Regions from separate parts of the Homo sapiens genome. Here region 1 is linked to region 2. Evidence: fine-mapped expression QTL. A gene starts in region 2. The other region holds a variant in brackets. All regions are shown on one strand. Distances are between the middles of the regions.

What was found. PIP is the estimated chance that this variant, and not a neighbour inherited with it, causes the effect.
Region 1: its variant is the best candidate, but not a certain one, in a credible set for the expression of KDM6B in whole blood (INTERVAL, PIP 0.55).

What each region holds. Positions count from the first base shown.
Region 1 is chr17:7,873,582-7,876,487 of GRCh38, forward strand. It overlaps a transcript of NAA38 not described here. Among named protein-coding and RNA genes, the nearest start is that of CHD3, 14 kb to the right of the region's middle. The variant A/T (reference allele first, on the strand shown) is at 1,626.
Region 2 is chr17:7,833,097-7,836,002 of GRCh38, forward strand. It overlaps KDM6B (lysine demethylase 6B), which reads left to right and starts at 1,121. Exons shown (of 24, transcript NM_001348716.2): 1 at 1,121-1,254. DNAH2 (dynein axonemal heavy chain 2) reads left to right here. Exons shown (of 86, transcript NM_020877.5): 85 at 1-125; 86 at 283-646. The coding sequence ends at 437. It overlaps LOC124904106 (translation initiation factor IF-2), which reads right to left. Exons shown (of 4, transcript XM_047437265.1): 4 at 2,312-2,906. The coding sequence ends at 2,521. RefSeq lists enhancers at 213-824, 1,455-1,954 and silencers at 1,093-1,252, 2,503-2,906.

The DNA of each region.
Region 1 (2,906 bases), 40 kb after region 2:
ATGTGACTGGGAAAGAGCAAGTGGAATCGGAAATAAAGGACTGAGTTAGAGGATCGCTGCTAACCATTAGTCCCTGAGAAGGTGGCAGGGGTGAGACTAAGAGCCCAAGTATAGGCATTAGCTTCAGACAGGACAGGAGGACAGGATAAAAGGACAAATATGGATAGAGTTAAACATGTAGTTGAGTATTGGAATTTCAAGGGAGTTCTCATATGATAATCTATCTCCTGGAAGTAGATAAGATTTTCTATCCATTATGATATTAAAATGAACATAGGTATCCTTTTCTTTAAAATGAACTAGTGTAAGGAGAAGGTTTTGAGGAAGTCACTGTGGAGAACTAAAAGAAAGCTGACTAGGAAAAAGGATTCCTGAACAGAAACACTGGTCTGAATGGTCATGGTGTTTTCTTCAGCAGCCCTTTGCATCCTGGGTGTAAACAAGCAACCAAAGTGATACAAGGCCAGGGGTTTGCAGGAAGGAAAATAAGAAGAGGGCACCAAGACAGTGGCAGGAGCATGGTTAAAATGATAGACCATGGAACTTAAGCTGGATAGGAAAAGAGGTGAAGATGGTATAGCTGATTAGGAGAAAATGAGGAGCTAAGGGACTACATTGTCTCATGGTGGGTCCAAGAACAGAGTAGAAGTAAATGAGGGGGCTAGAAGGATAGAAAGTTGTGGCCCAAGTTGGGGGTTTGAATTTAATACTTCAAAAGGAAGTCCAGAGATGGGGCCAGAAGTGGGATGGCTAGAAAGGTCTCTGGAAATAAGGGGATCAAGGGACCAAAAAGTCTGGGTGATGAATAGATCATTCATGTGGATCCTAAGGTCACCCAAGATGATGGCAGGACTAAGCCAGATGTCAGTCTTCAATGAATGAAGGAAATGTCAGGAGATAAGTAGAAAACACTGAGGAAGAGAAGGTAAGGAGCACACAGCAAGACTGCTGCAGCCTTAAAGAAATAGGGGCTTCTTACACAAGATGAGGGAATCTGGAGGCAACAGTAGAGATAAAGAATTAGCCAGGTGCAGTGGCTCACACCTGTAATCCCAGCACTTTGGGAGGCCAAGGTGGGTGGATCACTTGAGGTCAGGAGTTTGAGACCAGCCTGGCCAACATGGTGAAACCCCATCTCTACTAAAAATACAAAAATTAGCTGGGTGTGGTGGCGGGCGCCTGTAATCCTAGCTACCTAGGAGGCTGAGGCAGGAGAATCGCTTGAACCAGGAGGTGGAGGTTGCAGTGAACCAAGATTGTGCCACTGCACTCCAGCCTCGGCAATAAGAGCAAAACTCCATCTCAAAAAAAAAAAAAAAAAAAAAAAATTAGGTCGGGTGTGGTGGCTCACACCTGTAATCCCAACACTTCAGAAGGCCACTGGTGGGAGGATCGCTTGAGGCCAAGAGTTTAAGACCAATTTGAACGACACAGCGAGATCCCATCTCTACAAAAAATTTTAAAACTATCCGGTTGTGGTGGTGTGTGCCTGTAGTCCAGCTACTTGGGAGGATGAGGGAGGAGGAAAGCTTGAGCCTAGGAGTTCGAGGCTGCAGTGAGCTGTGATCACGCCACTGCACTCCAGCCTGGGTGACAAAGCAAGACCCTGTCTCTAAAACAAAACA[A/T]AACAAAACAAAAAACCCTCCATAAGTAATATTTTAATGGTTTCTCACAATCTTTAATTGATATTTAACTTCCTCACTAAAACTGGCTTTAAAGGTGACCAAATGACAAGTACAATACTTTTCTTGGTTTGTACTGTTTTTTTTTTAGAGACAGAGTCTCACTGTGTTGCCCAGGCTGCAGTGCAGTGGTGTAATCATAGCTCACTGCAGGCTCCAGCTCCTGGGCTGAGCTCTCCTCCTGCTTCAGTTTCCTGAGTAGGTAGGACTACAGGCATGAGCCACCATGCCTGGCTAATTTTTAAACTTTTTTTGTAGAGATAGTCTTGCTATGTTGCTCAGGCTGGTCTTAAACTCCTGGCCTCAAGCGATCCTCCTCTCTTGGCCTCCCAAAGTGCACTGGGATTACAGGTGTGAGTCACTGTATTGGCTGGTTTGTATTAAAAAGAAATTCAGATAGAATTAATATACCTTATTCACCATTTTAAAGTGAATTCAGGGGTTTTTAGTATATTCACAAGGCTGTGCAACTATCACCATTATCCAGAATTCCAGACATTTCCATCACCCCCAAAAGAAACCCCATATCCATTAGCAGTCCCTCCCATTCTTCCCTTCCCTGAAACCTGCACAACCACAGATCTACTAGTTGCCTATTCTGGACATTTCATATAAATGGCATCAAATAATATGTGGCCTTTTATGTCTAACTTCTCTTACTTAGCATAATGTTTTCAAAGTTCATCCATCTTATAGCATGTATCAGTATTCCATTCCTTTTTACGGCTGAATAATATTCCATTGTATGGATATACTATATTTATCCATTCATCAGTTGATGGATATTTTTGTTTACACTTTTTGGCTATTATGAATAATGCTTCTATGAATATTCATGCACAACTTTATGTGTGGACATATGATTCAATTATCTTGGGTGTACACTTAGTATTGAAATTGCAAGGTCATATGGTAGCTCTATATTTAACTTTTTGAGGAACTGTCAGTTTGTACTCTTCTTGATTCCCACGAAGCATCTAGTATCAATGATCATGCCTTCCTTCTGAAGCTGTCTGCCTACTCTACCATAACAACACTACCTGGTACACTTAACACTTGAACAACTTGTTTTTCTTTGGCTACTCCATCCTTCAAAGTTCCCCCAAGGTTCTGACCTCTACTCTTCACTTGATATACTAAAATTCTTACCCTTTAAAGAGGTACTAACTCCTACTATAACCTATCATGAACTTACCACTCCAGCCATATGAGGTCTACATACTA
Region 2 (2,906 bases):
CCTGGAAGGTGCTGGCTGGGACCGGAAGAACTCCTGCTTGGTGGAGGCAGAGCCCATGCAGCTTGTCTGCCTCATGCCCACGATCCACTTCCGGCCTGCAGAGAGCCGCAAGAAGAGCGCCAAGGGTGGGACAGCTCCCCAGGCAGGACCTGCCTGCCCCGTCCCTAGTTTGGAACTTAACCCATTCTCTGCTCCAGCCCATCCCACACCCGCTCCTGCCCTGCTCCTGCCCTGCTCTCCCGGAGGCTCCAGGGGTCTGACTTCTCCTCTCCTTTCCCCCAGGCATGTACTCCTGCCCCTGCTATTACTATCCCAACCGGGCAGGCAGCTCAGACCGAGCCTCCTTTGTCATCGGCATTGACCTGCGGTCTGGGGCCATGACACCTGATCATTGGATCAAGAGGGGCACTGCTCTACTCATGAGCCTGGACAGCTGAGACCTCCTCCTCTTCTCCGCTTGAGAGAGAGGGTCAGGGACTCCAGGAGCTAAGACAGATGTTGCACCTAGGACTGAGGCCGGACCTCACTCAGACTTTGACCTTGGCCGAATTTGTGTGATGTGGCCCTGGAGATACCTAGTTGTGTTAGCCATAAAAGTGAAAGAGTTGTATTGGAGCTCAGTGCTGTAAAACACCCGCGACAACAAGCCTTAAGTCTCTCAATGCAATGGTGAGGGTCTGGGGAGGGAGGAAGCCCAGGCCTCACGGAGGACAGAGCTACTGCGGAGCTGCTACTGGACGGGGAAAGAAGCGAGGGAGGTGGGGCGGCCTGGAGCGGAACGGAGGCGTGGCCCTGAACGAATGGGCAGGGCGGAGCCGCCTGAAGAGGCTGTGGCTTAAGTCTCCGGGCAGGACTTCAGTGGGTGGGGCGGGGCTTACCTTAGAAGGGCGCGTGATCCAAATGAGTAGGGATTTGTCAGGCAGGGATCAGGGCTGAACCCCGTACACTGCACCCTGAGGCCCGCACCCTGAAGCCCGCACCCCGCACCCGGCATCCTAGCCGGCACCCGCCCTGAGGCGAGCGGGACCGGCAGAAGACGGGGCGGAGCCGGAGAGGGGGACTAGAGCGCGAGGAGGGGCGGGACCACAAGGGGGCGGGGCTGGGGAGCGGGGGTGCGGGTGTTTGTGTTGGAAAATCCAACTGCGCCACTGGGCGGAGCGGCCCCCCCAGCCCCGGCCTGGGAGAAGGGGGGGCCGCTCGACCCCCTGGGATACCTTGGGGAGCCTGAACACCTGGGACCCCCCCCAGAACCAGGTAACGGGGAGCCGCGAGGACGTCTGTAAAGAGGGAAACCCTCTCCTTGCAGCAGGGCAGGACGCCTGAGTCTCTGGAGGGGTAGAGCTGGGGATGGACGTTTGGGTCTTGGGAAGGGCACTGGGAAGAAGACTGGGGCGGAGGTCATGGGTCCCCTAGAAGAGAGAACGGCGGGGAAGGAGGAAGAACTGGGAGGCAGATGTCTCAGGTTCCAAATGTCCAGAGGGGCCTGAAAGGACTCCCCGTTCCCCTTGGGCTGGGATTCCCCTTCCCGACTCCAGGGCGGGGCGGGGCGGGGCGCGGCGGTCCTTACTGAAGGGCAGGACTAAAGGGCAGAGTTTGCAGACAGGTCAATGCCATGGCCCAGTAAGGTCAGATGTGGTCAGACTTGGGTGTGTCCCGGTCCCAGGACTACTTTAAGTCTCCCTCCAGTTCTCTGCACGGGTGAGGTGTAGAAGCCTCAGCCTGACCTTCCCACCAGCGGCCCCGAGAGCTTCCCAGCGGTAGCCTTCGCCTTCTTCCCACCACCCCCCTGCGCCTCCCTTTCACTCCGTCTCGCCCCGCTAGCCTCCTCATCCCTAGTCCTTCTCCCACTCCGCCGTTCCCGAACCCTAGCGCGCCCCGCACGGCTTCTCGGTGCGGAGCCTTCCCAACGTAGCCACAAGATGGCGAGGGCGAGACGCACCCAGGGCAGGTGGGGGATGTGACCGTGAAAGTAGCTGAAGCCCCCCGCCCCGGTCCGAGGGAAAGGTAGGCTGAGGCCCCCACTTGACTTCCTGTGATCTGGGCCCCCTCACAGGAAATTGTGGGCAGGAGGTCGCAGCGCAGAAGACGGGGAGGGGGCTGGGGACTCAATCTCCGCCTCTCCCGGCTGGGGTAAATAGTGGGGAGGGGGGCACGCGGGGTGGTTGCTAAGCGACGTAGATTCGCTTCCTGTTTGCTGCAGCTTATGTTGTGACACTGGTGGGGGTTAGAGACAGCGGAGGGCCTGAAGACTGTGGGGAAGGCCGAGGGCAGGACGCCTGGTTCCCGGGACAGGAAGAGCCCTGGGAGGAAGGCGGGGAGGTAGCGAGCTGCGCCGCGACCGAAGGGGACTCGGTGGTTGTCCGGAGGGGGTTAGGGACCGAGGCGCAGCGTTGACCTCGGCTCCCCTTCCCTCCCCTGGGTTGCTTGTCCTGTTGCCAGAGTAACTGGAGGGCGAGACTTGGGAGCCGGATTCCCGAACTCTCCCGTCCGCCCAATCCGCTCCAGCGGTCGGCCCTGACGTCAGGGCCCTGGCAGCCAATGGGGAAGGGGGATGATAGCGACAGGAAAGGGAGAGGGGAGGGGCAGCGGCGGAGGCTGGGAGGCAGCAGCTGCCTGGGACCCGCACGTGCACTCCCACACGCTCGCGCCCACCCCCCGCCCTGCGCCGCACGCGCCCGAGCACCCCCTTGCGCCTGCGCGGCGAGCCGGGCGCCCCCCTCCCCTCGTGGAGTCTGTGTAAAGCCGCCTGAGGCTGCGCTCTTCAGCCCCTGGGGACCCACACGTCTCGGTCGGTCTGCACCGTTTCGCCGGTCGCGACCATAATGCCCAGCCTGGCTCGGGAGGGCCGACTACCTGTTCCCCACCTCCCCCCAGCTGGCGCCCCACACTCCCAGGTGGGCTGGGCG